Regions from separate parts of the Homo sapiens genome. Here all the other regions are linked to region 1. Evidence: fine-mapped expression QTL. A gene starts in region 1. Each other region holds a variant in brackets. All regions are shown on one strand. Distances are from middle to middle. Region 1 holds the start of MAFF (MAF bZIP transcription factor F). Region 2 holds the start of TMEM184B-AS1 (TMEM184B antisense RNA 1). Region 3 overlaps PLA2G6 (phospholipase A2 group VI).

The links. PIP is the estimated chance that this variant, and not a neighbour inherited with it, causes the effect.
Region 2: its variant is fine-mapped to the expression of MAFF in blood mononuclear cells (TOPMed, PIP 0.92).
Region 3: its variant is fine-mapped to the expression of MAFF in whole blood (TOPMed, PIP 0.94).

The regions. Positions count from the first base shown.
Region 1 is chr22:38,196,738-38,207,321 of GRCh38, reverse strand. MAFF (MAF bZIP transcription factor F) reads right to left here and starts at 5,328. Exons shown (of 3, transcript NM_012323.4): 1 at 5,110-5,328. RefSeq lists silencers at 2,472-2,521, 3,742-3,821, 4,672-5,111, 5,172-5,501, a cis regulatory region at 2,734 and enhancers at 2,662-2,806, 8,191-8,240.
Region 2 is chr22:38,224,538-38,235,121 of GRCh38, reverse strand. TMEM184B (transmembrane protein 184B) reads left to right here. Exons shown (of 9, transcript NM_012264.5): 4 at 3,788-3,878; 5 at 4,378-4,453; 6 at 8,252-8,343; 7 at 9,529-9,698; 8 at 10,143-10,337. It overlaps TMEM184B-AS1 (TMEM184B antisense RNA 1), which reads right to left and starts at 3,802. Exons shown (of 2, transcript NR_186700.1): 1 at 3,707-3,802; 2 at 2,874-3,074. SNORA92 (small nucleolar RNA, H/ACA box 92) reads left to right here and starts at 10,402; the gene lies at 10,402-10,584. It also overlaps the pseudogene RN7SL704P. RefSeq lists enhancers at 5,408-6,138, 9,963-10,463. The variant C/A (reference allele first, on the strand shown) is at 4,572.
Region 3 is chr22:38,138,872-38,149,455 of GRCh38, reverse strand. PLA2G6 (phospholipase A2 group VI) reads left to right here. Exons shown (of 17, transcript NM_003560.4): 3 at 3,803-4,018; 4 at 6,168-6,351; 5 at 9,287-9,474. Among named protein-coding and RNA genes, the nearest start is that of BAIAP2L2, 33 kb to the right of the region's middle. RefSeq lists an enhancer at 6,207-6,707. The variant C/T (reference allele first, on the strand shown) is at 5,076.

The DNA of each region.
Region 1 (10,584 bases):
GTGAAACCCTGTCTGTACTAAAAATACAAAAAATTAGCTGGGCCTGGTGGCACACACCTGTAGTCCCAACTACTCAGGAGGCTGAGGCAGGAGAATCGCTTAGAACCTGGGAGGCAGAGGTTGCAGTGAGCCGAGATTACGCGACTGCACTCCAGCCTGGGTGACAGAGCAAGACTCCATCTCAAAAATAATAATAATAATAATAATAGAATTCAGGCCTGAGGCCACATGGAGCCACACACCTCCTCCCTGTGTGGCCCTGGCAGGGCGACCTCCCTGGGCCCTGTTTCCCTAGCCCTGTGAAGATGAAGCTGGACTTGCCAGTTTCCAAGGCCACCCCAGCTCTGATTCTCCAGGATTTGTGTTGGGCCCGCTAGGGATACGATTTGCAAGTTACAGTTAAGTATCCAGGCCCCCTTACCAGCCGTTTGGGGAGCTGGCACGTGCAGTGATGCTTGGCCACCTGAGCTACACAGAAAGACCCAATGGGAGAAGGGAAGCCTCTCCCCACGCAAGTTAATCAACTGCCCTTTGGGTGTTGCGGCTGATACAGAACCTCAGAGGCACAGTCTGGCCTCATGCACAAGTCATTTTTCCTGAGTCCTGGATTCCTTGCTAAGTGGGAATAATCACAATAATCTTGGTGTGTAAAATATAAAGGCTTAGGCAAGGCCAGGCGTGGTGGCTCACGCCTGTAATCCCAGCACTTTGGGAGGCCAAGGTGGGCAGATCATCTGAGGCCAGGAGTTCAAGAACGGCCTGGCCAACATGGTGAAATCCTGTCTCTACTAAAGAAAAAAAAAAATGCAAAAATTAGCCAGGTGTGGTGGCGCACACCTATAGTCCCAGCTACTTGGGAGGCTGAGGCAGAAGAATTGCATGAACCCGGGAGGTGGAGGTTTCAGTGAGCTGAGAACAAGCCACTGGACTCCAGCCTGGGCAACAGAGCGAGACTCCATCAAAAAAAAAAAAAAAAAAAAAGGAGGCATAGGCAAGAAAGATCACCTCATCTCACCATCATCCCACTATCCACAAGCAACAGAGACATCACTAACCACACACAGCACCAATTCCCAGTGAGGCAGGCCACAGCCCCTGAGTCTTTCTCAGCACAGAACTGTTTTCTCCTGAGCTTGGACACAGCCTAGAATCCTCAACACTGCCTCCAGACCAGGCCTGAGAGATGGAACCATCAGCCATTCCCTATCCTTGATAATAGCGGAAGCTGGCTGTGATTGTAAATACCCTCAGGTGCTAGGAAGGTTTTGAACCTGCTCTTCCCCCACTCCTCCATGCCCTCCTGTCCGAGCCTCAGCCCCCTCAACCGCATCCTGGATGTCAGCTGAGGCACCCACGTTTGCCCAGGAATGTCCTAGCTCAGCAGTCAGGCAATCACAGGGGGAAAGTCACAAGAAGGGGGAACTTTCTGGTAACCTCAGGCTTTCCGCTGCCAACCCCAGGCCAGGGGCTGCCAAGGGGCCTGGGTCCTCTGCCTTTGCCAGGCTGGCTGACCCTGGGCCTGAGAAATAGTAGCTGATCCGATCCCCTGTTCAGCACCTGAGGCAACCAAGCCACTGTTTGGTAGCCGTGGCGGACTGGAACCCAGGGGTCCTCTGTCTTCTATGTCGGCCACCACCACCTCTCCCTGGCTTCTTCCCTTGGAAGCCAGCAGAGCTGACCTCCAGGGTCTGCAGGTTCATGACGTCTTCTGGAGGCATAAGGAGAGAGGTGACTCTTGAGGGACTGACAACTGCCTTGTCCAGTCAGCAGCCACAACCCTCCAACGTCCCCCTCCCTGGCCCCACCAGTCCACTCCAGAGACATCCTGTAGAAGGCCCACCCGCTGGCATGGGCTCCTTTCTGGCTGCTGAGCCATTCTGCTCGCTCTGTGAGGACAGGGAAAAAATGTGTTTTCCTAGCTCTTGGCAGTCAGCACTGCTGGAGCCTCCTCCCTGCTGGAAGGGGAGCAAGGCTGGAAGAACCAAGCACCACAGAGAAGCAACGGCCTGGGGTTCCAGCCCCAGTTCAGGTACCCTCTCACACTCGCTGTGTGGCCTCAGGTACGGCACTCCCTCTCTCTGGGCCTCAGTTTTCCCACTATGCCAAACGTCCTCCGAGCCTAAGGTACCTTCCAACAATGACTGTCTCTGAGTTTAGAGTTTCAGATTCTGGCCCAGAGCTCCAAGACCACCAGCAGAATGGAGGTAGGGAAAGGAAAGCGGTGAAGGCTTCCTGGAGGTGGGGGCATGAGACACAAACTATCAGACTATCAGACTAGCCCTCTTCTCCACCTGCACAGCCACAGACCACTTCCTCCTTCATCTGGACCATGACCACAACCGCCTGCTCACCAGCCTCTTGCCTTGCCCTCCGTCTCCAATCCCCATCATTGATCCTCCCCCAAGAGCTGTCAGAGGAATCACTACTGACACAAACCCACGAGCCTGTCCGTGCTTGGCCCATTTCAAAACCCTGCAATGCCAGCCTCCCCGCAAGCCAACACAGTAGGGTCCTCAGGCCTCAACCGTATTCCTGTCCACTCTCTCCCAGGATCGTATGCTAACAGATGAATGAACAGACAGCAAATTCTACTATCCCTGAATGTTTCCCAAAGGGACAAGCGGGCAGTGCATGCCTGTGTGTGTGAGGGAGGAAGTTGCCTGAGTCCTGAAGGATTTGCTCGCTTTTGGGAGACTGCTTCAAGATTCCCCCAGCCCCTGCCCTGGCTTCCTGTTTCTCTGGGGTTCCCAGGCCTTTTTCTCCATGTGTTGTGGAGCTCTTAGAGGGCAGGGATCCAGGGCTCATTCATTCAATCAGCAAACATCCAAGAAGCACCTACTATGTTCCAGGCTCTGTGCTGGGCCCTGGAGACCCTGAAGTGAATCACAGCTCCTGCCTTCAAGGGCTTCACAGACAACCACCACTCTATCAGACTCAGCACACTAGTCACCTCCCCAGGGAAGCCTTCCTTGATTGCCCTGGCTAAGTCAGAGCGCTGTTATGTACTTTCAAACCACAGTGACTTCTCCCTCACATCACCCATCTAAGCTGTGTTTTGCATTTACTTCTGTGGATCTTTTTTCAAGTTTGTGTCCGCTGCTGAGCTATAAGCTCCCAGAGGGCAGTCTCTGGATCTGGTCTGTTCATCTCATCCCTGGCATCTGGTCCAGGACAAGGGCCCAATGGCAATGCAGGGCCCAGGGGTGATTCAATGGGAAGTTAAACTTCTCAGTGCTAACTTTCCATCTGGGACTGAGTCAACCAGCCACTTCCCCTCATCCCCTGACCCCAGGCCCTACTTTGTAATGTTTCCTGCCCAGCTTTGAGGGTGGGCCTGTCTGGTTCCTGTGCTCCTGGCCCCAACCCTCCTGACTCAAACCCCACCTACTCTTGGGTACCCCCAGCTCCTGGCATGGGGCTGTCAGCCCTGCTTTCTCTTCCACAATTCACCTGGAAAATACGCTGTCTGCACAGACTTCCAGAGCTTCCCCCTTCTACCCACCATCCTGCCATCCTGGCTGTTACCTAGTTCCCAGTGGTAGATGGGAATACTGAGGGTCCGGGCTGCTGTAGCAGAGCTCACCCAGGGTTCAAAGATCCAAAGTCAAAAGATCATTGGTTCCTCACCCTAGCAAGTTCAATTGCTCCCCTCCCACAATTCCATAGACCGTGGGTGGGTGGGTGGAGGGGGAAGGTGGATTAAGACCAAGGAATCTCTAGCCCCCAGCCCATCCTGCAGGCGGCTACGACAAACAGGTGCTTTCTGCAGGGCTATTGGGTGAGTGGGTGGGTGGCGGCTAGGTCAGGCCCCACCCCTCACTCATTAACCCTCCGTGCAGTCAGAGTTCTATCCCCAATGCCTACTGACCCTGCCTGGCCCAGGGTGAGGGCACTCGGGGTCTGTCGGCTGGCTCAGAGCCTCAGCTAGCTTCCGGCGTCCAGCTGTAGGTCAGTCTAGTCTCACCAGTCCCACTTGTGAACTGAAACTACCAGGAGAGCGGAAACCGGCTCCGCCCCATCCTCCACGACCTAGCAGGTACAGCCTCCAGAACCCGGACTAGCTAAAAGCCTGTGGTCCTCTCCCTGCGCCGCACCCTTGCAGTCAAGGTTTTCTGGCCCTTCCTGTTCTCATGGGACTGAGGGGATGGGCAACCCTGGGGACGAACGAGAGTCCCTTGGTTCTTCCCTCCCCAGGAAGCCCCAAAATCTGGGGACAAGAACCTGGGCTCCAACTCACTTTGTTACCAGATCCACCGGGGTGCCAAGCGGGGGTGGCTCACATCCCTCACTCCTAGCTCAGCTGGGTGGGGTCTTTGATACCTTGCCCCACCCTGTGGCTGCGGGCGCGGGCTCTGGGCGGGAGACAAACACTGGGGTCACGTGGCGGAGGCCCTGGGAAACTCCGGGGAGAGCCGGGGACGGACAGCCCCGGGTAGTAGGACTGGGGCGGCCCGGGCCAGAATTCCCAGACCCCGTGCGAAGACGCACGGGTCCGCTTCCTTCGCTCGGGTCCTTGTTCCGCGTTTACTCCGGTGGCCGGCCCAGGGCACGCCCTCTCCGAGGTACACACTGCTGGTGTACAGGCCCCAGGGAGCGCGCGCGCGGACACGCACACACAAGCACAACACACGCACACACGCCCCCGAGGTACACAGCGCACGCACGCACCGGGCAGGATACCCAGGCCGCCCGCCAGGGAACACACGCCCGCCCTCGGACGTAAACAAACCGCGCACGCACCGCCCGCGGGCGCCGGGCCAGGGCCTGTTCCCACCGAGTCACGTAGGAGCACAGCGCCCCCGCCCCCGCCGGGCGGACGCGGAGATCGCCGGCCTGCGCTGCCCCTTCCTCCCGGCGCCGCCGCCTACCCGCCCGCGCCCCGGGAAGGGGCCCCGTCTCCACCCCCACTCCCCCGAGCTGGCCTCGGCCCCGTCCTCGGCGTCCCCGGGACGGCCGCTCCCTTCTCCCCGCCCCGAGCCGTCCGGGCGATGGAGCTCCGGGAGCCCCGACGGATCGGGCCCGGGCGCCCACCCCAGGCGCATCCCGGGACGCAGAAACCCTGCCGCCTTGGGGTCCCGCGCACCGTCCTCCTGGTCCCGCGTTCCTCACCCGCTTCTGGGCCCGCTTGGTCCGGCGCGCTCACACACGCGCGTCTCGCCGCTGTCCCGGCCGCTGTCCCGATCCGCGCTCCGGTCAGTCTCCCCTCCGCTCTGAGCCGCAGGTCGCTCTGAACCGGGCGCCCGGGAGCGCTGCGCTGAGTTTTGTTGTGGGGCGGGCGGCGCAGGGGGCCGAGGCCGCGCGGAGTTGTAAGGCGAGCTTCCCGGAATTACTCACTCACAGGATTCCTTTCATTCATAAAAACCCAGTCATGCGGTGACGTCACCGACCCGGCCGCCCTCCGGCCAGGAGCGGCCGCTTGGTCCCTCGGCCCCGCCCCCGTATGACCCCGCCCCCTGGAAGCCCCGCCCCCGGGGCTGCCGCGATTCTCTGCCTGGTTCCAGGGCTCGCTGGGTGCGTTCACGTGACACCTCGCGAGAGCCCCGTGGGTGTAGGTGTCATTGGCTCATTTTACAGGTAGTGGTCCTGGCCCTCTTCTTTCGACCTAGACCTTCTGCCTTAATGATCTCATCCAGTCCCGTGGCTTTAAATGACATTTATATGGCTATGAGCCCCAGGTTTGTATTTCCGGAGCGAACAGCTTCTCTGAGTTCCAGACTCATAGCCAGCTGCCCACTCTGCGCATCCAGTGGGTGTCAGATGGGCACTGCAGAGGACTCGGCCCAAAAACCCGCTCCTGATCGTCAGCCCTACCTCTGCTCCCTTGCCACCCCATCTCAGCTGCTCAAGCCAAAACCTTGGAGCCTGGCTCCATCCCTCCCTCTCCCTTCCTCCCCACCTCAGGACTCAAGCTAGCGGTGTCTCCAGGTCTCCTGCATAGGACCATTTCTCACCACCTCCAGTCATGGCACCTGGTCTCGGCACCATCAGCTTACCCGGACAATGGCAGCAGCCTCCGAGGCTCCCTACTTTGCCTCCAAAGTCTTTCTTTCTATACCAGCCAATGTTCTTCTCAAAACAAAGCTCAGGTTGTTTACACACCTTCTTTGGCCACTCTCTCCTCATCCACTGCTCTTCGGCCACAGTGCCCTTCTTTCTGTCCCCCAAACATACCAAGCTCATTCCTGCGACAGGCCCTTGGCACTGGCTGTCTGGTCTTCTGTTCACTTGCCTGACTCTTTCTCATCTTTCACGTCAGCCCGGATGTCACTGCCTCAGAGAGACATTTCCTGACCACCCTGGTTAAAGCAGTCTTCACCTCTGAATTTTTTTTTTTTTTTCGAGACAGGGTCTCACTCTGTCACCCAGGCTGGAGTGCAGTGGCACAATCTCGGCTCACTGCAACCTCCTTCTCCTGGACTCCAGCCATTCTCCCACCTTAGCCTCCCAAGTAGCTGGGACCATAAGCACACACCACCATGCTAGGTTCATTTTTTGTATTTTTTTTTTTTTTTTTTTTTTTTTTTTTTTGTAGAGACAGGGTTTTGCCATGTTGCCCAAACTGGTCTCAAACTCCTGGACTCAGGCAATCCACCCACGCTGGCCTCCCAAAGTAATGGGATTACAGGCGCAAGCCACCGCACCCAGCCTTGAAATTTGTTCTTATATTATCTTAATACTTCTGTAGGGTGTTTCATCATTTATGTATGTGAGTGCTGGTTATTGTCTGTCTTCCCCAACCAGAATGTATGTTTTATGAAGGCAGGCCTTGCTTCTTTTTCTTTTTCTTTTTTTTTTTTTGAGACAGAGTCTCACTCTGTTGCCCAGGCTGGAGTGCAGTGGCATAATCTTGGCTCACTGCAACCTCCGCCTCCCAGGTTCAAGGAATTCAGCCCCCCAGTAGCTGGACTACAGGTGAGTCACCATGCCCAGCCAGGCTGGTTTTGAACCCCTGACCTCAGGCCACCCACCTCGGCCTCCCAAAGTGTTGGGATTGCAGACATGAGCCACTGCGCCTGGCCAGGCTTATCTTGTTCACCACTGCCTGCCCAGTGCCTGGAGTAGTGCTTGGCACATAGTAGGCCCACAGTAAATACATGTTGAAGGAATACATGACTGGAGGCTCAGAGAGGTGAAGGTGACTTTCTAAATTCACTCAGCTAGGAAGTACAAGCACTGGAATTGGTATCCAGGTCTGAATGATTCCTGGCCCAGATGTTTGGGGGTACATCGCAACCAGGGGAGGAGGGCCACATAAACATGAGGGGTGTGCGCCGTGGTGGGAAGCCCCACCCAAAAGAGATGGCTTTGGAGGCCACGTGCGGGGTGGATGTTGCTGTTCATCCCCTGCTTTCCTTTGCTCATGATGTTCCCACTGCCTGAAATTCCATCGCTCCCACAGTCCCTCCTGTGAAGCCGACATCATGGCACTTACTCCACTGTGGAGGGCATAGGGCCTCTCCAAATGGGTAGGCCTCTATGTGGCACCCTGATCACCAGTAAGGATCCCCACTTTCCTTTTTTTTTTTTTTTTTTTGAGCCGGAGTCTCGCTGTGTTGCCCCAGGCTGGAGTGCAGTGGCGCGATCTCAGCTCACTGCAAGCTCCACCTCCCGGGTTCACGCCATTCTCCAGCCTCAGCCTCCCGAGTAGCTGGGACTACAGGCGCCCGCCACCGCGCCCTCCTAATTTTTTTTTTTTGTATTTTTAGTAGAGACGGGGTTTCACCGTGGTGTCGATCTCCTGACCTCGTGATCCACCCGCCTCGGCCTCCCAAAGTGCTGGGATTACACGCGTGAGCCACCGCGCCCAGCCCCCCACTTTCCTTGATGTAGCAAATTCGATTTCAGCGCCCTTGTCTTGCTTTCCTGCCTCTGTGCCTTGGTCCACCAGACACTATGGCTTCTTTCCGTTCCCTCCCACAGGCTGTGGGTTTGGTATGCAAATTGGCCCACTAGTTTCCCAAGTGACCAAATGTTGAGGCAGCTTTGTCTAGCACTCAAAAGGATCTCTAAAAACCAATTGCTCAGTCCTCTCCATGTGCATAGCAGAAAGAGCCACCTAGGTTAACCTTTGGGGTAGGAAAGTTCTCAGTTTTAGAAACTGCACAATGGTGAGTTGTCTATTTTCTCTACCCCCCACCCCCTTTAAAACCAAAACCAAAACAAAACAAAACAGGGTCTTGCCCTGTTGCCCAGGCTGGAGTGCAGTGGCATGATCATAGCTCACTGCAGCCTTGAACTTCTGGGCTCAAGCGATCCTCTCACCTCAGCCTCCCGAGTAGTTGGGACTACAAGTGTGCATCACTGTGCCTGGATAATTTTTCTATTTTTTGCAGAGATGGAGGTCTCACCATATTGCATAGGTTGATCTTGAACCCTTGGCCTCAAGCCTTCCTTCTGCCTCAGCCTCCCAATCTACTCCCTTTTTTATGAGCTTCTCAAGAGCTGGGGCCACACCTGGAACACTGTAGGTGCTCAGCTAGTGAGTGAATTCTCAGTGGACCTGAACAACACTCCTGGACACCATGCTGCCTAGATCCTTTACTCCCATCCCCAGCCTGCCAGAACAAGGGGGTCAGTGCCTCATTATCCACCCTGCAGGGACTGCTTCCCATAGACATAGCTCCCTTTCTGGTCAAGATCAAGGGCCATGGTGCAATGTCCTATTTAAAAGTGGGAGCTCAGGCTGGGCATGGTGGCTCGCACCTGTATTCTCAGCACTTTGGGAGACCGAGGCAGGAGGATCACTTGAGCCCGGAGTTTGAGACCAGCCTGGGCAATATGGCGAAATCTTGTCTCTATTAAAAAAAGAAGAGGAAGAAAAAAAAAAAAGAAATGACCATCAGGCAGCCACCATAGTAATCATGGGTTGCAGCAAGAATCACCAATGGATATGAAAGCTTGATGAGAAAGTATTTACATAGTTTCAAGTTATTTACCCACAAGATGATAATTAATTATGGAAGGAAAAATAATAACTCTGCAGTGGAGAAATTTGGCAGACACAACCTTCGCTAAGTGATCAAAGTTAATATCACCAGTAAGGGGCAAATTGCCACGGAGTTTGTAGATGAGGTAATTACTGCATGGATGCCCAACTTCCTGGCTTCAATGCTTGTCCTGTGGTCATAGAAGAGAATGTGTCCTTGATTTTAGGAAATATACACTGGAGTATTTATTTATTTATTTATTTATTTATTTTTTTGAGATGGAGTCTTGCTCTGTCACCCAGGCTGGAGTGCAATGGTGCGACCTTGGCTCACTGCAACCTCTGCCTCCTGGGTTCAAGTGATTCTCCTGCCTCAGCCTCCTGAGTAGCTGGGATTACAGGCACCCACCATCATGCCCGGCTAAATTTTGTATTTTTGTAGAGACGGGGGTTTCACCATGTTGGCCAGGCTAGTCTTGAACTCCTGACCTCAGGTCATCTGTCTGCCTCGGCCTCCTGAAGAGCTGGGATTACAGGTGTGAGCCACCGTGCCTGGCCCACTAGAGTATTTAGAGGTAAAAGGCATCATGTTTGCAATTTACTCTGACATGGTTCTGAAAATAATACATATAGATAGATAGTGTTATGGGTGGAATTTCATAATGTTAAAATGTGTATGTTGAAGTCCTAATGCCTAAAAATCTCAGAATGTGACTGTATTTGGAGATAAAGTTTTAAAAGGCATAAGTAAATTAAAATATATACGGTAGGCCCTAATCCAATCTGACCAGTGTCCTTATAAGAAAAGAAAATTTGGCCAGGCGCAGTGTAATCCCAGCACGTTGGGACGCCAAGGCAGGCAGATCACTTGAGGTCAGGAGTTTGAGACCAGCCTGGCCAACATGCAAAACCCTGTCTCTACTTAATTAAAAAAAAAAAAATTAGTCGGGAGTTGTGGCACATGCCTATAATCCTAGCTACTCAGGAGGCTGAGGCAGGAGAATTGCTTGAACCTGGGAGGCAGAGGTTGCAGTGAGCCGAGATCACGCCATTGCACTCCAGCCTGGGCGACAGAGCGAGACTGTCTCAAAAAAAAAATTGTTTTTTGAAAGTAGGGACTCTCAAGTCAGCCTGTCGGGTTCAGATCCTGGCCCCACGCCTCATCAGCTGACGTCATCTCCACCCTCTATAAACCGGGCTAATAGTGCCTCCTTTGCAGGCTGTGAAACAACATAATGTGTTTGCACTTATAAGCCTCTGGCACAGCGCTTAGTATATAATAAAAGATCAATAATATCAGGTTAGAGAGAGGAGTCCTCTACAGCAGGGGTCCCCAAATCGCAGGCTGAGGACCAGTACTGTTTGTCCGTGGCCTGTTAGGAACCAGCGGGCTGAGTGAGCGTCACCGCCTGAGCTCCGCCTCCTGTAGGATCAGCACTGGCATTGGAGTCTCATTAGGAGCGTGAACCCTATTGTGAACTGCGCTTTTGAGGGATCCAGGTTGTGTGCTCCTTGTGAGAATCTAACTACGGCCAGATATGCCTGATGACCTGAGGTGGAACAGTTTCTTTTTTTTTTTTTTTTTTTGGAGAGAGTCTCGCTCTATCCCCCAGGCTGGAGTGCAGTGTAGCCATCTTGGCTCACTGCAACCTCCGCCT
Region 2 (10,584 bases), 28 kb before region 1:
CTGTCCATTCCTTCCTTCAGTGTTGATGACATGTTTGTAGCTGCCAGGCCCTCCGGTAGTCATTGGAGGTAGGACTGCATTCTACCTGCAAGGAGTTTACAGTCTGGAAAAAGCAGTAGGTAACACACCGTGGACTCTTGACTGTGCCCTCAGCTCATCTAAGGCTCTGCACGTTCACAGCCCCTGACCCCACCAAGGGAGGAGTTATCCCGCTTACAGATGAGGAGATTCGGGCATGGAGCGCTTAAGACACTTGCCTGAGGCCACACAGCTCCTAAGAGGTGGGACCACAGTTCACAACCAAGGCAGGCTGTCTCCAGGGCCCATGGCTCTTTACCTTACTTAATGTTGCTTTTGTGCCGGAGGGATCAGGCAGAGCCCAGAGAGGGGTGATGTGTGAAGTAAGCAGGGTGCAGGACAGAAGAGGCGGCATCTCAGTGGGGTCTGCCTCTGCGGTGAGCAGAGGGACCAGAATGTACCATTGCATGCAGGCGTGAGTGATCACAGCACGTCCCAGGAGCTTCAGTCATGGTTTTATCTGTATTCCACTTACCATGGCTGTGCAAATAACTACTGCCAAAACACACTAGTGTAAAACAACCATCCAGTTTCTTCATGGATATTATAGGTCAAGAATTTGGACTGGGTGCAGGGGAGATAGTTTGTCCCTGCTCCATGACCTCTGGGCCTTGGCAGGAGAGCGTGAAGGCTGGGGCAAATCACCTGAAGGCTCACTCCCTTGTGTGCCTGGCAGTTGATGCTGGCTGTCAGCTGAAGGCCTCGGTTCCCTCACATGAGCCTCTCTGTGCGGTGTCTCCAAAGGCTAGCTCGTGCTTCCCCGCTGCATGGTGACTGAGTGCAAGGACAGGCATTCAAGGGAAAAAGAGCCAGAGGAAAGAGGCCTCTTCCAACCCCTACATCAGATGTCACAAAACATCACTTTGGCTGTGGTTACTCAGGGCCACCAGATACAAAGGGAGGGAACAAGACCCCACCTCTCAGAGGAGGGGTGTCAGCATCACGAGGTGTGGCAGTCTAGAAAATGCAACCGTCGGCCGGGCGCGGTGGCTCACGCCTGTCATCTCAGCACTTTGGGAGGCCGAGGTGGGCGGATCACCTGAGGTCAGGAGTTCAAGACCACCCTGGCCAACATGGTAAAACCCTGTCTGTACTACAAATACAAAATTAGCTGGGTGTGGTGGTGTGCGCCTGTAATCCCAGTTACTCCAGAGGCTGAGACAGGAGAACCACTTGAACCCTAGAGGTGGAGGTTGCAGTGAGCCAAGATCGTGCCACTGCACTCCAGCCTAGGGGATAGAGCGAGACTCTGTCTCAAAAAAAGCAAAAACAAAAAACAAAAACAACAAAAAAAAATACAACCATCATGATATAGCTGGACCCGGCTTAGAATGGACACGGTCATTGTGCTTGGCCTTGTGAGGTTTTGAACAGAGGTTACTGGCAGGCTGACATCAGGTTTGGCTTAATGCCCACCCCTTTCCCTTTGCCCCATAGTTCTTGCTGGTGAAGAGTCATCTGGAGATTGGTGGAGACTTGTCTGTCCTGAGACATCCTGAGCTGCCTCCAGCACAGGCAGGCAGTACACACAGCCCTCAGCCCTGTCTAGGGGCTCCTGGCCCTGCAGGCAGCAGATAGACGGTAATGGTCGTGACAGCCAACACCCAGCGCAGTGAGCCCCGGACACACTTCTGAACACTTTCATGCTCACGCCTCACAGCCACCTGCCAAGTTGGTGCTCCTGTGATCCCCTTTGATAGATGAGGAAACTGAACCCAAAGAGGCTCACACACATCGCATACCTCTGCTGTATGTGTGTGAAGGGTGAAGGGACAGTCACAACAAGGCGTGGTCAGTGCTGGGGGACATATACATGGGGATGCCACCTGGAGATGGGAGCCCTTAATGGATTAGGGCAACCGTGAGTAGCATAAAATGCCGCAAATGTGTTCCTTTCCAAATCGCTGAAGGCCAGCTTTGCCTAAAAAACATCACCAGGGCTTTCCACGCTCCAGTTCAGTCAGTGAAACTGTTGTGGTGTGCCCCGTGTGTGCCATGAGTGGCACCTGTGTCCTGAGGAAGGCGAGAGGGGGAGACCAGTCATTGTGACACAGGGTGGGAAGTGTCTGCAAATCAGGTTCCGTGGGTAGGAGGGCACTCACCTCCACGATGGTCACCGGGGACTTGTCACACTGGGTGCCATCCCAGCTGGGGTTGATGGATCCTGAGAGTACAGCGGGAAGGGTGCTAGAACCTCTGGGATCTGGGAGTGCAGAAGCACCGAAGGATAAGAGAACCTGCTCTGGGGAGAAGTGCAGCATTAGTGCTGCTCGGGAGTGGCGGGAGCTTGGGCAGGGACCAGGTCACCCATTGAAAGATCAAGTGCCAAGCTGGGCGGCACCAGGGAGCCTAAAAGGACTCTGTACTGCAGGGGCTGGCGGGGTCAGATGAGAAGAAGCCCTCTGGCTGGAGGGCCACCGTGGCTCCCTCGACCTGTTCTGACCCTGTTCTGCCCCTCCCCTTGGCCTTGTGCCTTTACTGGATGCCCATCCTCATTCCCATGTCCTCACCCTGGCTCTTCCTCTTGCGTTCTTTCATTTTGGGTACCGTCTGCTGCACCCCTTCCCCCGCCTTCTCCACACTCTCCTCCATCCTGGCATGTCCATTTGCCTCTAGCACCCTGCAGGCAGCAGCCTTCATTTTGCTGACCCAGAAGGAACCACCTGACCAGGAGACCCGTTACAGCGTGTTGCTGTATTTATAGCATCAACATTTACAGCAGACTTGCTGTGCCATCACTCCCGGTGGCAAATTTTGGGTCTTTGTGGAGATGTTGAGCCGAGTCCCAATTTAGAATGAGCAGCCCAAGCTTCCCAAGGTTTTTACTGTGTTCTGTGTGCTGCCGTGTGCTTTGTTGTAGCTCATAGTGCTGTGCGTATTCCGGATACCGCTACAGGTTGTTGACTGGATGAAGGTTCTTCCCTCTCACTCCTGCTTGGAATTTCTCCCAAGATTTTCACAGAGACTGTTTTGTTGTTATCTTATAAAATTGTGACCTGTAACACACAAGTATGTAAGACAAATATTTATTTATAAATACATTAGAGATGAGGTCTCGCTATGTTGCCCAGGCTGGAGTGCAGTGGCTGTTCAGAGGTGCGATCCCACTCTGGAGTTTGACTTGCTCTGTTTCCAACCTGGGCTGGTTCACCCCTCCTTCGGCAACCTGGTGATCCCCCACTCCCAGGAGGTCACCGTACTGCTGCCAGACTTGGTGCAGACACCAGATCAGTGTAGCACACTACAGCCCAGAACTCCCAGACTCAAGACGTCCTCCTGCCGCAGCAGTAGCTGGGACCACAGGCGCATGCCACTGCGCCCGGAAAAACTAATAAAGGCAATACTGTTTCGCCCCAGGGTCGACACTGCCAGCCCTCCCAAACCTCCTGAGTACCCACCCTTACCTCAGCCTCCTCTGGCCTCCCCACATAACCCTGAACTCACGACAGTCCCTTCATAGTATTACGCCAGTGCAGGGGTGCATCCCGGGATAAGATAATTTAGGTGTGCCGGGTTTTGAACTTAGGAGTGGGAGGTCAGATGTCTGTGTTCTTGACGGGCTCCTTTTGCACAACCTTATGTCCCCCAGCCTCCTCCCTGTTGCCACACACAGCTGTGGCTCTTTCACCTCCATTGCTGTTTAGAATCCCAGCATCTGCGGACCCATTCTGCTGATTTGACTGGTTTCTCCTGGACACTCTCTTCGCAGCCTTGGTCATCTATAATTTCCTGAGCCTGTGCTATGAGTACCTAGGAGGAGAAAGTTCCATCATGTCGGAGATCAGAGGAAAACCCATTGAGTGAGTATGGAGTCTTCCCAGAGCCCTAAACCACCCCGTTTCCTGGGCCTGGTGTACCTCGAGCCGTCCTGGCACCAGCTGGACACAGACCATGTCTGCCCGTGACCTTGACCTGCTGTGCCTCACCACATTTCCTGAGCAACGCCATTCTTCTGGGCGTTTTAGGAGGGCCTCTGCGGCTCAGTCTTTCTCTCTCTGTCTCTTCCTGTCTCAGTCTTAGTGCTTTCCTGTCTGTTTCTGCCTCCTGCAGTTTTTACATTCAGAGCTCTCCAAGTTGGTTTGTCACCCCAGGGCCAGTGCAGCCCTGTGTCCCTCCGCCTATGGCATGTGCGGATGCCCTGCCATGCCTCTCCCTGTGCTTGGCCTCGGGTTCAAAGTCTGCCCAGAATGTGTGCCCCAGCTCGTCTGGATGGGTGGGAGGGCGGCCTTCCCCACCCCACTGTTCCCAAGTCCTGGCTCTTCACTCACTGCCACTGCCTGCTATGCTTGTCTCTTCCAGGTCCAGCTGTATGTATGGCACCTGCTGCCTCTGGGGAAAGACTTATTCCATCGGATTTCTGAGGTTCTGCAAACAGGTGTGTGCCCCCAGCAGCTGCCTAGCTCAGGAGGAGCAGGGCGGGGTCTGGGAGGCCCTGCCGTGGGCTGCCCTGGGCCCCACCTTAGAGGTCCCCTTTCCTATGAGGCACCCCAGGC[C/A]CCCAGCACCCACCCCCCGAAGCTGTTAGGCAGATACCACATTAGCAGGGTGTGCTTGGAGGGGCAGCGACCGACATCCTGGGAGTGTCTGTTGCACTGTGGGCAAGAGCTGATCCCAGACTCTTGCTCGTGTGACCAAGTCTCAGTGTGTGTGAAAATCAGAAGAAGTGCGTGGGGATTCTAGAACCTCCATTTGAAAACTTCTCATCAGCTGCAGCTAGGGGGCAGGAGGGTTTTGGCATTAAAGACACACGCCAGAACAGGCCTCTGCCGTCTCTTCGTCTCTCCCTGCATTTCCTGGTTGGCAATCCAGCCGCTCTAGCTTCCTGGGCTGACTTCCCTGTGGTCTAGAGTAGCCTTGGCAGTCCAGCCGCTCTAGCTTCCTGGGCTGGCCTCCCTGTGGTCTAGAGTAGCCTTGGCAATCCAGCCGCTCTAGCTTCCTGGGCTGACCTCCCTGTGGTCTAGAGTAGCCTTGGCAATCCAGCCGCTCTAGCTTCCTGGGCTGGCCTCCCTGTGGTCTAGAGTAGCCTTGGCAATCCAGCCGCTCTAGCTTCCTGGGCTGACCTCCCTGTGGTCTAGAGTAGCCTTGGCAATCCAGCCGCTCTAGCTTCCTGGGCTGGCCTCCCTGTGGTCTAGAGTAGCCTTGGCAATCCAGCCGCTCTAGCTTCCTGGGCTGACCTCCCTGTGGTCTAGAGTAGCCTTGGCAATCCAGCCGCTCTAGCTTCCTGGGCTGACCTCCCTGTGGTCTAGAGTAGCCTTGGCAATCCAGCCGCTCTAGCTTCCTGGGCTGACCTCCCTGTGGTCTAGAGTAGCCTTGGCAATCCAGCCGCTCTAGCTTCCTGGGCTGGCCTCCCTGTGGTCTAGAGTAGCCTTGGCAATCCAGCCACTCTAGCTTCCTGGGCTGACCTCCCTGTGGTCTAGAGTAGCCTTGGCAATCCAGCTGCTCTAGCTTCCTGGGCTGACCTCCCTGTGGTCTAGAGTAGCCTGGGTGGGGGCAGTGTGGTGGGGTCGCTCAGTGTGTGGGCCTGGGTGTCTGACCATCTGAGCCTGATTTCCAGCTTTTCCTCTGACTCTGTGACCTTGGATAATTGGCTTACCCTCTCTGAGCTTTAGTTTCCTCCACTGTAAAATGAGTGTAATGATACTCCTCTCTAGAGATGGTTGTGAGGATCAGATGAGGTCATGGATGTAGAGCTTTCAGCCCGGCGTGGTGGAGCCCACGGCCTCCTGTTCAGGGAGGCAGAGTCTGAGGGGATCACGCCCACTCTTCATGACCTTGCGTTAGTCTCCTCTGGGGCTCCGTAGGGGCTCTGTCATGTCAGCCCCTCCAGCTTCGCCAAGAGTAGTCACGAAAGTACATGAAACCCACAGCCAAGTCACGATGGCCCTGGAGGGCGGGGCCTGCTGCTCCCTTCTGTGCAGGGCCCAGGCCACAGGGCGGGCACACCCACAAAGCCTCCACCTGAACATGCCAAGTCTCCAGTTCTGCTTCCAGACCTTCCTTCCCTAGCATGTTCCTAAATTCAGAATCTCACCACTGGACCTGCAGGGAAAGAGTTAAAACTATCCTGGGTTCAGGGTGGGGCATTGAGAGCCATTGTTTACCAGTTGGTGCAGCCACCCAGGTTCCGGCCAGCTGTGACTCACTGCCTTGTTTGATGATTATATTGTCTACAAAATTTTGATTTCATGATTGTTAGCTAGTGTGGCCTTGTTAGAAATTATTCCCCAGCCCTGTGGGCTCAGATGTTCTGTTCTTGTTCCTGGCGGTGGCAGGGAGAGATATAAGAAGAAAGAGAACAAAAGAGGCCTCTTCCTTTCTTTACCAGGGCGAGAGAGCACACCCCACAGCTTTGTCCTAGAGGCACAGAGACAGGCCTTTGACTCCTCAGGGCCAGTGCTCAATATCCAGACCTTCTGGAGAGATTCCCTACTTAAAGTAGAGATTCCCAGATCAACCACCCACTACCCTAGCCCATAGGAGAAGTTCTGGAATGGAGCCCTGGAACCTGGCACATGTCTAAAGCTCCCTGGGGGTTCTGATGTCCAGCCCAGCCTGGGAACTGCTGACTGGTCCAGGGTATGGTCAGGTGATGATTCTGGGGCCTGCTGGCCTGGGCTCTGCTGCTGCTGCTGCTGCTGCTTCAGCTTCTCTCTGCCTCAGTTTCCTCACCTGTACCATGGGGATAATGACAGCACCCACGTCAGGGGGCTGTCATGAGTACCAGGTGAGCTGACCCAGGGAAACACCAGCCTGTTGCTAGGCTCATAACTGGAACTCATGCAAACTGCCGTTCTTCCCTTTTCCCCAGAAGGTGCCAGTCCCACTTCTCTAGGCGGGATGACAGGGCCAGGGACGTTCTGTGGGGCTTTCTGAGAGTGGGACTGCACGTCTGCCCCATCACGCGGGCCTCTCCGTATGGCAGCCCCATGGTGTGGGCTGCCTGGGGCTCCCCTGCAAGACCCACTCAGATCCCCAGTTGGGGCAGAAGCTGCAGGTTTCACGGATCACGGTTCCCACTCCAGGCTCCTCGTCCTCTTTGCAGCTACACTAGTTGAGCCTTTTGGATTGGATTTAACCTCCCCCAGCTCCTCAGAAGGGGTCTTAGGGCTTAGATTTATTTGCTTTCTAGATAATGGTGATACTAGTGATGTTATGGGCACCATGGGTCCGCCCGTAGGGAATCGGGAAAACCTGGCTGAGGAACTCTTTCCGTGGCTCAGCCAGCTAGCAGGCGCCGTTAGTGCATGTACAGAGGCGGGAGACTCCCGAGAAGATGCTGCGCTTCCTGGCTGTGCCATCCCCGCAGCAGTGGCCCTGTGGTGTGGGGAGTGACTACATCCTTTTCATCAGGGAGTCTGTGCTCAGAGGCCAAGTGTCTGCCCAAGCTGTCCCCAGAGTTCAAACTCAGATTTTGAGACTCTGGAGTCCACGTGCTCTGGGCTCCTGCAGGTCACCTCCATCCCCAGAGTGACCTCTGCTGACCAGAAACCCTGGACCCAGGCCCAGAGAGTAGGGCTAGGAACCAGATCGGGGGTGGACATGGAGGATGGGAGGAGGCCCTCACCTGCGCCGGCTTCCCGGTGGCTGGTTCCTTGAGCAGGGCCCTAGCCTTGCCCCGGGCACCAAGGTCTCCAGGACCTGGCCCTGCCCATCTCCTCAGCCACCTCTCTAGTGCGCAGCCCCTTGCACCTGTCCACCCTCTGCCTCGGGGCCTTGGTGCAAGCTGCCCCCTCTGCCTGTCGAGCCTCTCATCTCCGGCACCCACCTGATGGTCCTGGCTCGAGAAGCTTCCTTGTGTGCATCTCCTGTCTCCCGCCTCCATCGTGCCCTGCCACACCATTCCTCCCTTCCTCCCTCCCTTCCTCCACATGCTCATATCACATACGGCATTGCGCTGGCTGCATCTCCTATATGTTCTGCCCCCCGCCCCGCGCAGACAGCAGTCCCCTGGGAGCAGGACACGTAGCCACCCCCCATCTCCTCCATCTCCTCTATCCTTCCATCCCCTCCATCCCTTCGTCCCTCCATCCCCTCCGTCCCTCCATCCCTCCGTCCTCTCCGTCTCCTTCATCCTCTCTGTCCCTCCATCCGGTACAGTTCCGTCTGCCAGAGGCAGGGCTTGCTTCATGCCTTCTGTGCTCCTCCTCCACACTCAACCTCCTTTTCCCCCCAACAGGCCACCCTGCAGTTCTGTGTGGTGAAGCCACTCATGGCGGTCAGCACTGTGGTCCTCCAGGCCTTCGGCAAGTACCGGGATGGGGACTTTGAGTAAGCAGCGGGTGCTCCCCGGGGTGTGTGGGAGGAGTGTTGGCGCAGGCTGGTGCCTTGGCTCAGGGAAGGGGGCAGCCAGAGTGGCCGCACAGCCATGACCTTCCTGGGTGTCTGGTGCTCACAACCCCCCTGAAGTCTGAGCCCAGCAGTGGACACCCTTGCAGTTGGCCCCGCTGCCAGCCCCGGAGTGAGCCATTGGCAGCAGTCACGTTCATGTCCAGGCTGCAGAGTGGTACCATGAAGGGATGGGCCACAAAGGGACAGTGACCACTGCTGAGGCAGGGAGCGAGAGGGTCAGAGCCCCAAGAGGTCGGCTCAAGTCCACAGATACAAAGCCCGTGCTGTGTAAATTGTCCACACCCATTTCATTCTGGGCTTAGTGAAAGTGACCCCGTGGCTGGGCACAGTGGTTCACGCCTGTAATCCTAGCACTTTGGGAGGCCAACGCGGGTAGATCACCTGAGGTCAGGAGTTCAAGACCAGCCTGGCCAACATGGTGAAACCCCATCACTACTAAAAATACAAAAAATTAACCGGGCGTGGTGACGGGTGCCTATAATCCCAGCTACTCGGGAGGCTGAGGCAGGAGAATCGCTTGAACCCAGGAGGCAGAGGTTGCGGTGAGCCAAGATCACGCCATTGCACTCTAGCCTGGGTGACAAGAACAAAACTCCATATCTAAAAAAAAAAAAAAAAAAAGTGACCATGTGTCTAGCCCTGTGCTTTCAAGCTCTCGGCACACACTGTCTGTGAACTGTGTAACAGCCCTGCCAGGGCAGGTGGGCAAAAGGAGGTCAGGGGGATGCAGCCGACCGAGTGAAAAGGCAGCAGAGCTGAGCAGCGTCACCTATTTTGACGCCTGTTATCTGAGTGTCAGGCTATGGCCTCGGGCCCGGCCCTGGCTTCCACACTGGTGTCCAACGTTAGGAGTGTGGGCACCAGGGCTTAGACAAGTCCACGAGCCACGCAGAGGCAGTAGAGCTGGTCTGGCCTGCAGGCGCACCCCATGTACCCCCACCCCTGTCTGTCGCTTTGATCACCCATTCTGACCCCTTCAGTGGCTCGTTGAGCTCTGCTGGAGGTGTGGGGCTGAGAGCCATGGGGACTGTGTGTGGTGCAGTCGAGGAGAGCCCCTTCCCTCCAAGGGTCTGTCCCAGCCAGAAAATGCTCCCCGTCCCGCAGCGTCACCAGTGGCTACCTCTACGTGACCATCATCTACAACATCTCCGTCAGCCTGGCCCTCTACGCCCTCTTCCTCTTCTACTTCGCCACCCGGGAGCTGCTCAGCCCCTACAGCCCCGTCCTCAAGTTCTTCATGGTCAAGTCCGTCATCTTTCTTTCCTTCTGGCAAGGTGAGCCCCCTCCCAGCACCTGGAGGCTGCCCATGCCACCCTGTCCTCTGCGCTTCCTGCTGCCCCTTCTGCTTATGGTCCCTGGTGCCTGTAGGGCCTGTTCAGAGGGGCCTCAGCCCACTGGGCACTTGCTGGGGGTGAAATCTGAGCCCTCGAGGGCCTTTCCCAGGGGCTAGGGAGAGCTTTGGTGGGGCCGCTACATGGATGAGAGGGCCCAGGAGACCCTGCGTAATTGCTGGCATCTCAGTTTCGGTGGCAAAGAGCTGGGAGAGTGGGGTTTCCGGAGGCTGTGGCCTTGTGTCGCTACCCCTGCCCTGCAGGAGCAGCTGTGGCCCTGCTCACATCCTCACTGGGGCATGTGGGCAGCTGAATGGGGCATTGTGGAAGAAGGGGGAGCAGGAAAGGAATCATTCTGGGTCCAGACACCCGTGCCTCCCCATCCAGGCATGCTCCTGGCCATCCTGGAGAAGTGTGGGGCCATCCCCAAAATCCACTCGGCCCGCGTGTCGGTGGGCGAGGGCACCGTGGCTGCCGGCTACCAGGACTTCATCATCTGTGTGGAGATGTTCTTTGCAGCCCTGGCCCTGCGGCACGCCTTCACCTACAAGGTCTATGCTGACAAGAGGCTGGACGCACAAGGTATGAGCCAGGGTCCTAGGCGACCCCCGCTGGGAGAAGCAGGGAGCCCCAAACATCCCAGGACCCTCCCACCTCCCAGCATCCTACAGGTGCGGCTGGGTCAGGACATGGGATCCCCACTCTATATGCAGGAATGGGGCCACAGAGGTCGGGGAAGAGCAGGTGCCACCAGCACGACCGATTCGGTCCTGGAAGCTCAGGCCACCTGTCCCTTGCAGCAGGTCCAAGTGTGGCGGTCCAGGGCTGA
Region 3 (10,584 bases), 58 kb after region 1:
TTCCTGATTATATTTTTTAATTTTGTAATTTCCATTTGATGCTTTTTTGATCATTCAAAACTCTTCACCAAAATTCTAAATTTCCTTTTTTAACCTCTCGAATGTTATCACAGTTACTTTAAAGTCTATTTTGGATAACTTAAATATTTACAGTCCCCTCACAGATATGTTTCTTTTGTATATTGTTTCTGTTGGTTTTCTTTCATGTCTTATCTCCACATATGCCTGGTGAGTTTTGATTATGTGTTGGTCATTGTATTTGCAAGTATGCTCGTAGAAATAATCTGGAATGGCCGGGCGCAGTGGCTCATGCCTGTAATCCCAGCACTTTGGGAGGCTGAGGCAGGTGGATCACGAGATCAGGAGATCAAGACCATCCTGGCTAACATGGTGAAACCCCATCTCTACTAAAAATACAAAAAATTAGCTGAGCATGGTGGCACGTTCCTGTAATCCCTGCTACTCGGGAGGCTGAGGCAGGAGAATCACTTGAACCAGGAGGCAGAGGTTGCAGTGAGCCGAGATCACGCCACTGCACTCCAGCCTGGGTGACAGAGCGAGACTCCGTCTCAAAAAAAAAAAAAAAAAAAAAAAAAGAAATAATCTAGAGCCTAGTTTGATGTTTCCTTACAAAGAATGAATTTATTTTTGCTTCTCCCATTGCAACTAGGATAACCTCAGTCTAGTTTCTGGAACTGAAATCACTTGAGGCTGAACTGTGGTCTCTGTGAGAGCGTGTCTGTGTATGGCTCACCCTTATTCCTAGGCTACGTAGTTCTTTAGGACCCTAACCCAAAGTAAGAGATGTTCATCAGGGCTCTCCTCTTGGCAGACGCCTGGGCTCCAGTCCCTGTGTCCTGAGCCCCATGAGGCTGTTACTGGTGCTGCTCGTCTGCCCATCCTCTCCAGTAACAGCCACCTGAACACTGCAATTCCTGGGTTTCCATCATTCCTTCCAGCCTGGTGAGTCATCAGTGTCTTTTGAGGTATCCAGTGCCTGCCAGCAGATGTTTTTTAATAATTTGTCCAGCATTTCTGGCTGTCCTCAGTAGGTGGTCTGTTTCACATTCCCTAGTCTGCTGTTAATGGAAAGTGGAAGTTCTGAGAGAGAATCATCGTTCCCGTCAGCATTCAAATGCCTGATTACACTTTCCCCATTCGCTATCCTTTCCTTTATTTGCTCCTCACCACAGCAAAACTCCTCAAAAATATCTATCTTTGCAATCTTCAGATTCTCACATTGTGTCCTTAAACCCACTTTAATCAGGCCTTGGTTCCCTCCATTCCACTAAAAGTAATGTTGTCAAGGTCGTGCATGCCTCCGTGATGCTAATTCCAGTGATGAGTTTTCAGTTGTCATTCTCTGACATATCGGCAACACTTGATGTGGAGTACCCTGATGTTGAGAGGCTGGTGAGATGAAGGAAAAACCCAGCCAAGGGCAATGAGGAATGGCTTCCTTCCGCCTCCTCCTTCCCTATCTTTGTTGTGGTTTTTGTTGTTTCTGTAACACTGATTACGTTATAGTTTATTTAATGTACTTCCTTATTCTATGTTTTTACTTTAGTCATTTTGTTGATCTCCTCCATAATAACATAGGCTCGGGCCAAGCACAGTGGCTCACGCCTGTAATCCCAGCACTTTGGGAGACCAAGATGGGTGGATCACTTGAGGTGAGGAGTTCGAGACCAGCCTGGCCAACATGGCGAAACCCTGTGCCTACTAAAAATACAAAAATTAGCTGGGCGTGGTAGCAAGCGCCTGTAATCCCAGCTACTAGGGAGGCTGAAGCAGGAGAATTGCAGGAGAATCACTTGAACCCAGGGGGCAGAGGTTGCAGTGAGCTGAGATCGCGCCACTGCACTCCAGCCTGGGTAACAGAGTGAGACTCTGTCTCAAAAAAAAAAAAAAAAAAAAGGCTTCAGGAGGGCAGAGCATTTTATGCAATTGTTCATTAATTGACCCCTCCATTTGGCACAGATCACATGCCCAGTAGTTAACTGTTAATCAACGCACTCTCTGTGGAACAACAGGCTGGTCCCGTTGAGCCAACACTCTCTGGGCACTGCCTTCACTAGACTCTGGCTGGCTGCTGCGCTTGTAGAGGTATGCAAGACAAAACCTTTTGGTATGTTAAAAGCCCTGGTCAGAACTTTAAGTAACCATCACTGACATATAATGGTTATGGTTTTGAAAGTGCTTTTATAGTGGTTTTTCATCTGTCCTCACAGCACCTCTGGGAGGTAGGTAGGACAGGTACAGTTAGTCTCATGTTTCAAATGGGGCTCAGAGAGGGAAAAGGATTTCCCAAGATCACACAGCACCTTAGTAGCAAAACTTGGACTCAACCTCAACACTTAAAAATGAACAAAGCTGGCCGGGCGCAGTGGCTCATGCCTGTAATCCTAGCACTTTGGGAGGCCCAGGCAGGCAGGTCACCTGAGGCCAGGAGTTTAAGATCAGCCTGGCCAACATGACAAAACTCTGTCTCTTCTAAAAATACAAAAAATTAGCCGGGCATGGTGGCGGGTGCCTGTAATCCCAGCTACTCAGGAGGCTGAGGCAGGAGAATCACTTGAACCTGGGAGATGGAGGCTGCAGTGAGCCGAGATCGTGCCATTGTACTCCAGCCTGGGCAACAAGAATGAAACTCCATCTCAAAAAAAAAAAAAAGAAAAGAAAAGAAAAAGAAAAGTTTCCCTTTTTTTAAATATCTCATTTTAATGACTGCATAATAGTTTATTACATAGTTATACCATAATTTATATAATATTTTGTTGCTGTACATTTAGGTTAAACAATACTTACTTAGTTCCTACTATGAAGAGGGGCCAAGTACTCGAGGCTGGAGCTCTCACATGTGGCAATGAAATTAGAAAGTGGATATGGCAGGGCTGTGGTAAAATAAAATATAAAAATAATAAATGATATTACCAAAGAAAAGGAAAGTTTTTCAAAATAAAGGAAAATCTAGACAAGCATAGTGGCTCACACCTGTAATCCCAGTACTTTTGGAGGCTGAGGCAGGAGGAACACTTGAGGCCAGGAGTTCAAGACCAGCCTGGGCAACATAGCAAGACCCCCTGTCAACAAAAATAAAAAAAAATTAGGCCAGGCACAGTGGCTCACGGTGGCTAGTGCCTGAAATCCTAGCACTTTGAGAGGCTGAGGGGGGTGGATTGCCTGAGCTCAGGAGTTCGAGACCAGCCTGGGCAACATGGCCAAACCCCATCTCTACTAAAAACACAAAAAATTAGCCAGGTGTGGCAGCACACGCCTTTAATCCCAGCTACTCTGGAGACTGAGGTAGGAGAATTGCTTGAACCCGGGAGGTGAAGGTCGCAGTGAGGTGAGATTACAACACTGCACTCCAGCCTGGGTGACAAAATGAGACTCTATCTCAAAAAAAAAAAAAATTAGCTGGGCATGGTGGTGCATGCCTGTAATCCCAGCTACTCAGGAACTAAGGTAGGAGGATCCCTTCAGCCCAGGAATTCGAAGATGCAGTGAGTCATGATCACACCACCGCACCCCAGCCTGGGTTACAGAGCAAGACCTTGTCTCTAAAAAACAAAGAAAGTCTAACCTAAACGCCATTATGTCATTTACATGTGTATAGGGGTGTGTGTGTGTGTGTGTGTGTGTGTGTGTGTGTGTGTGTGTGTGTGTGTTTGCTTGGGAGGGGAGTCGGGCTGGAGCTGGCCAGGCCGCAGCCTGGGGACCTTCTGATTCCAGCAGGGATGTGGGCCGAGGGTCCCGCCTTACTCATTTCGGGTCTTGCTCCTCTGTCCTGGCTCTACAGACTCTTCCAGCTGGAGTTGGAGGCTGACGCCCTAGTGAATTTCCATCAGTATTCTTCCCAGCTGCTACCCTTCTATGAGAGCTCCCCTCAGGTCCTGCACACTGAGGTCCTGCAGCACCTGACCGACCTCATCCGTAACCACCCCAGCTGGTCAGTGGCCCACCTGGCTGTGGAGCTAGGGATCCGCGAGTGCTTCCATCACAGCCGTATCATCAGGTGAGCAAGGGAACAAGACCATTTGGACAACGTGTGTGTACCTGCTTGTGTGGGCAGTGGGGGCCGCAGGCCTCGGTTCCCCTCCATAGTTTGACTTAAAAAGGAGCAGGGCCTGGCATGGTCGCTCACTAACGCAGTCCCAGCACTTTGGGAGGCTGAGGAGGGAGGATCACTTGAGACTAGGAGTTCAAGACCAGCCTGGCAAAATAGCAAGACCTTGTCTCTACGAAAAAATTAAAAAATTAGCATGTGTCTATACTCCTAGCTACTTGGGATGCTGAGGCAGGAGGATTGCTTGAGCCCAGGAGTTAGAGTTTACAGTGAGCTATGATTGCACCACTGCACTTCAGCCTGGGTGACAGAATGAGACCTTGTCTCTAGGAAAAAAAAAAAAAAAAAAAAAAAGGTGCTGCGTTGCTACCAGATTAAAATGTAAGAAGGACAATGTAATGTTTCCAGAGTCCGGAGTGCTCACCAGGTGCCAGGTCTGTGGGAGCTGATTTCTACCCACCATGAAATTGAATTTTCCCAACCCCCACAAGGTATCGTCATTTTATTTTACTTTATTTTATTTTATTTTATTTTATTTTATTTTATTTTATTTTATGTTACGTTATGTTATTTTATTTTGAGACGGAGTCTTATTCTGTCACCCAGGCTGGAGTGCAGTGGCGCGATCTTGGCTCACTGCACCCTCTGCCTCCTGGGTTCAGGTGATTCTCCTGCCTCAGCCTCCGGAATAGCTGGGATTACAGTAATGTGCCATCATGCCCGGGTAATTTTTTTTTTTTTTTTTTTTTTTTTTGAGACGGAGTCTCGCTCTGTCGCCCAGGCTGGAGTGCAGTGGCGCGATCTCGGCTCACTGCAAGCTCCGCCTCCCGGGTTCACGCCATTCTCCTGCCTCAGCCTCCCGCGTAGCTGGGACTACAGGCGCCCGCCACCACGCCCGGCTAATTTTTTTGTGTTTTTTAGTAGAGACGGGGTTTCACCATGTTGGCCAGGTTGGTCTCGAACTCCTAACCTCAGGTGATCTGCCCTCCTTGGCCTCCCAAAGTGC[C/T]GGGATTACAGGCGTGAGCCACCATGCCCGGCCCAGGTATCATCATTCTAGAGAGAGCTAACAGGACTTGTGCAGGTCACTCAGCCAGAGAGGGTGAAAGAGGGGCTTGGATCCTTGGTGTCTGCCCAGGCTGCTCTTCTGGAAGCTGAAGGCCTCCTTTTGTGAATCCATTCAGCCAGCAGATGGAGCAGCTGTTGCCCCTGGTGAGGGCACTGTCCCCACCCTTGCACAGGGCACCAGTTGGCCATCTTGTGCAGAGGTAGCCACACCTCCTCTGAGTCTCTATCCTAGATAGCTCAGTTAAGCTCCCAGGCCCAGAACTCAAAACCTCACTGCTGGCCGGGCGTGGTGGCTCACACCTGTAATCCCAGCACTTTGTGAGGCCGAGGCGGGTGTATCACTTGAGGTCAGGAGTTTGAGACCAGCCTGGCCAACGTGGTGAAACCCCGTCTCTACTAAAAATACAAAAAATTAGCAAGGCGTGGTGGCGCACGCCTGTAATCCCAGCTACTCGGGAGGCTGAGGCAGGAGAATTGCTTGAACCCAGAGGCGGAGGTTGCAGTGAGCCGAGATTGTGTCACTGCATTACAGCCTGGGCAACAAGAGTGAAACTCCACCTCAAAAAAACAAAACAAAACAAAAACCCTCACTGCACTTTAGTTTCCAGGCGTGCTTTTGGACAGCACTGTCTCATCTCACCATCACTCTGTCCATTTCCTGGGGCAGGCACAGCAGCTTGTGTCGATAAGGATATTGACGCCCAGAAAGGTTAAGTGAATTGCCTGAGGCTAGTGAGATATCCGTGTTCTGTGACCCTTTCCTGTGCCACCACCCTGCCCACTTCCTGCTGGTGTGGCCCTGGGGCCCATCTCTTGTACGAGTGAGCAAACTGAACAGAAACCTGATACAGGTCACATCAGATATAATTACATTCAAATCAGCCCAACTAGCTGAGTGGCGGGAATGCTCTTGAGCTCAAATAAACCAGAAAGTCCGAGTTTCCGAGTGCACTTCCCTGCATGTGCACTTAGGTCCCCCTGCCACCTTGTACCACACCTGCTCACCTCTGCTCACCCTGGCCCTCTCCTGCAGCTGTGCCAATTGCGCGGAGAACGAGGAGGGCTGCACACCCCTGCACCTGGCCTGCCGCAAGGGTGATGGGGAGATCCTGGTGGAGCTGGTGCAGTACTGCCACACTCAGATGGATGTCACCGACTACAAGGGAGAGACCGTCTTCCATTATGCTGTCCAGGGTGACAATTCTCAGGTGCTGCAGGTGAGCAGGGGGAGGGGCAGGGTGACTGGTACTGATACCTCCCGGTGTCCACGGTTCCCTTTGGGCCCCTAGGCTCAGGTGTCACTCTCAGGCCTCTCACTGTCCCCCATTGGTCCTTGAGGCCTGAGCTCCTTCATGGAGGGTGCAGACCCCTCCCTGGCTCTTCCCTCCCAGCCCTTTTCCAGGAGCCACGTCCTCAGTCTCTTTGCTTGATAAACCTGGGGACGGCCTCCAACCCAGCAAAATAAACCCCAAAAAAGGCCCAGCTCCAGTCAGTTAGTTCAGTTCCACTTTTCCTGAGCACAAACTGTGAGCCAGATGCCTGCCTGGAGGGGCTCGTGGGCCAGCGGGACCTGGGCTTAACCTTTTGCAAGCTTGTCCAATCTGTGGCCCTGCAGGCTGCATGCAGCCCAGGACGGCTTTGAATGTGGCCCAACACAAATTCACAAACTTTCTTAAAACATTATGAGATCCATGCATGGACCTTTTTTTTAGATCAGCTGTTGTTAGCGTTCATGTATTTTATGTGTGACCCAAGACAATTCTTCTGATGTGGCCCAGGGAGGCCAAAATATTGGACAACCCTATTTTACAGGAATTCAAACCAAGCAAACCAAACTGTCTCCAGTTCCTGTAGGCATTTGTGCCAGAGGCCCTCCTGTTAACGTTTTTGATTACCTGGGCAAAAGATGTGATTTTTTAATTGTGGGCAAGCAGATGGGGTGATACTATTAAATAGCTATTTCATATATTAGATTGAACAGAAAAGGCAGGATGTTGGATTATGTTTTATTGTCTAGAATTAGAAAATTCTTCTAAAGATCATGTTCTCTCTGCCTTGGCATCAGAATGCAACTACGTTATACCAGAAAATGTGGATTCCTTTTTTTTTTTTTTTTTTTTTTTTTTTGAGACAGAGTTTCCCTATGTCTCCCAGGCTAGAGTGCAGTGGTGCGATCTCGGCTCACTGCAACCTCCACCTCCTGGGTTGAAGTGATGCTCGTGCCTCAGCTTCCTGAGTAGCTGGGATTACAGGCATGTGCCACCATGCCTGGGTAGTTTCCGTATTTTTAGTAGGGATGGGGTTTTGCCATGTTGCCCAGGCTGGTCTCCAACTCCTGGCCTTAAGTGATCCACCTGCCTCAGCCTCCCAAAATGCCGGGATTACAGGTGTGAGCCACTGTGCCCGGCCCAGAAAATGTGGATTCATATCTTATGCTTCTTGCTCTCAGGGAAGGGAATTCTCCACCCACTGTTGAACTCCACTTTCACCGAGAATCCTCTGCGCACCCAGCATGGTGCCGCGCAGACCCTGCCTCCATGCGGGGGTGTGCACACCCGCTTCTCGATAGTCATGCACGACTGCAGCTGTCCTTTATCCGGTGCTGATTGGTGCCTGACCTTGAACTGAGTGTTGTATGTGTTCCAGTTAATTCTTAGAATACACTCATGGGGTGGAGGTCATTATTCCCCTTTCCTCTCCGAAGAAACTGAGGTTCAGTGTTGTTAATTAAGAAGCGTGCCCAGGGAGGGCCACAAAGCTGAGAGAGTGGGGCTTGACCTTACATTGGCCTCGATGCCAGCCCTTTGCTCTTCCTGCTGTGTCTCTGGCCTGCCTTCAGGTCCAGTGGGACTGCTGTGAGGTGACCCTGGTGTCACATGGGTACACTGTGGTTGTAATGAACCTCATGGGGACAGCACTGAGCCAAAAGTGAGACAGTAAAACCCTCCTAGCACTTTCTTTTTTTTGAGACAGCATCTAGCTCTGTCGCCCAGGCTGGAGTGCAGTGGTGTGATTGTGGCTCACTGCAGCCTCAACCTCCTGGACTCAGGTGATCCTCCCACCTCAGCCTCCTGAGCAGCTGGGACTACAGGCTCGTGCCACCACATGGGCTAATTTTTTTTTTTTTTGAGACGGAGTCTTGCTCTGTCGCCCAGGCTGGAGTGCAGTGGCGCGATCTTGGCTCACTGCAAGCTCTGCCTCCCGGGTTCATGCCATCCTCCTGCCTCAGCCTCCAGAGTAGCTGGGACTACAGGCGCCCGCCACCACACCCGGCTAATTTTTTTTGTATTTTTAGTAGAGACAGGGTTTCACCGTGTTCGCCAGGATGGTCTTGGTCTCCTGACCTTGTGATCCGCCTGCCTCGGCCTCCCAAAGTGCTGGGATTACAGGCGTGAGCCACCACACCCAGGCCACGCCAGCTAATTTTTAAAATTTTTTTGGTAAAGATGGGGTCTCCCTATGTTGCCGAGGCTGGTATCACACTCTTGGTCTCAAGTGATCCTCTCACCTCCCAGTGTGTTGGAATTACAAGCATGAGCCACTGCGCCTGGCCCCTGGCTCTCTTTTTAATACTGCTGTTCTTTCATTGAAAACATAGTACCTGCATGTAGAAAAAAATCAGTCAGGACAGAATGAAAAGCAAGAATCATTCCCACCTGGACCCCCAGTGCCCATCCTGAGATACAGCTACCTTTTAAGTTCCTTGACTCAGAAATGTTTCATGTGAGCCACAGTCATGCCAGGTCGACCCCTTCCCTCCCATCCACACTGGCACTTGGCTTTCCTGGTGCTTCTCTTTACGTTCTTTTTTTTTAGACAGAGTTTTTGCTCTATTGCCCAGGCTAGAGTGCAATGATGCAATCTCAGCTCACTGCAACCTCTGCCTCCTGGGTTCAAGCGATTCTCTTTCCTCAGGTTCCTGAGTAGCTGGGATTACAGGTGCCTGCCACCATGCCCGGCTAATTTTTGTATCGTTAGAAGAGACGACATTTCACCATGTTGGCCAGGCTGGTCTCAAACTCTTGACCTCAGGTGATCCACCCACCTTGGCCTCCCAAAGTGCTAGGATTACAGGCATGAGCCACTGCGCCCGGCCTCTTTACGTTCTTATCAGCATCCTATGGAGTCAAACTTCCCTTCCTCTTTCATCAGCTCCTTGGAAGGAACGCAGTGGCTGGCCTGAACCAGGTGAATAACCAAGGGCTGACCCCGCTGCACCTGGCCTGCCAGCTGGGGAAGCAGGAGATGGTCCGCGTGCTGCTGCTGTGCAATGCTCGGTGCAACATCATGGGCCCCAACGGCTACCCCATCCACTCGGCCATGAAGTTCTCTCAGAAGGGGTAAGACCTCCTCCCCTCCCCATCTGCTGGCCTGCTGGGCTCCAGCTCTCCTGTCACCTGTCCCGTGCCTGAGGCAAGCAGTATCCACCATAGATCTTAGCATCTCCAGCCTCAGAGCAGAGGCCCCGGGTTCACAAGCCTCATTAGGCCCCGCCTGGCCCAAAGAAGGTGCTCCATCATTGTATCATGGGTAGGAATCTCGGTTCACAAGTTCAGCTGTGCAAGGAGGAGACTTTAAAATTTTTCTGGCTGGGCGCGGTGTCTCACGCCTGTAATCCCAACACTTTGGGAGGCTGAGGTGGGCAGATCACCTGAGGTCGGGAGTTCGAGACCAGCCTGACCAACATGAAGAAACCCCATCTCTACTAAAAAATACAAAATTAGCTGGGCGTGGTGACACATGCCTGTAATCCCAGCTACTTGGAAGGCTGAGGCAGGAGAATCGGTTGAACCCGGGAGGCGGAGGTTGCAGTGAGCCGAGATCGCACCGTTGCACTCCAGCCTGGGCAATAAGAGCGAAACTGTCTCAAAAAATAAATAAATAAATAAATAAATAAATAAATAAAAATAAATTTATTTAATGTACCTTAATTCCTAGGAGTGAATCTCCCTCTATAAAACTGGAGACAACCAATCTTAGCCCTCTTTGGGGTCTCCTCTTTCCAGCTCCCCTCCAGGTGGTGCTCCAGTTCTGGAGTCTGATGCAACCCCAAGGCCCACCTGGCCCCTCCTCTAACCCAGCCCAGCCTGATCTGAACAGCCCCCCGATGGCTTCAGTGCTCCTTGGTTTCTTGTGTGCCCAGCTCAAAGCCTGGGAAATGCTTGGTAAGGTGGCCGAGTGCCCGTCCACCTAGATGCCTCTTTCCTTTCTGGCTGGTGGCACGTTGGGAGGCAGGTACAGGCTCATGTTTTGGGAGCCTGGGAACCCCTGGTGTCAGGAAAATTGTCTTCAAAGGGGTAGGGGATGAGATAAAAAGATAAATGAATATCTCAAATCTCAAAATACTATCTAGGCCAGGCGCGGTGGCTCACACCTGTAATCCCAGCAGTTTGGGAGGCCAAGGTGGGTGGATCACCTGAAGTCAGGAGTTCGAGACCAGCCTGACCAAT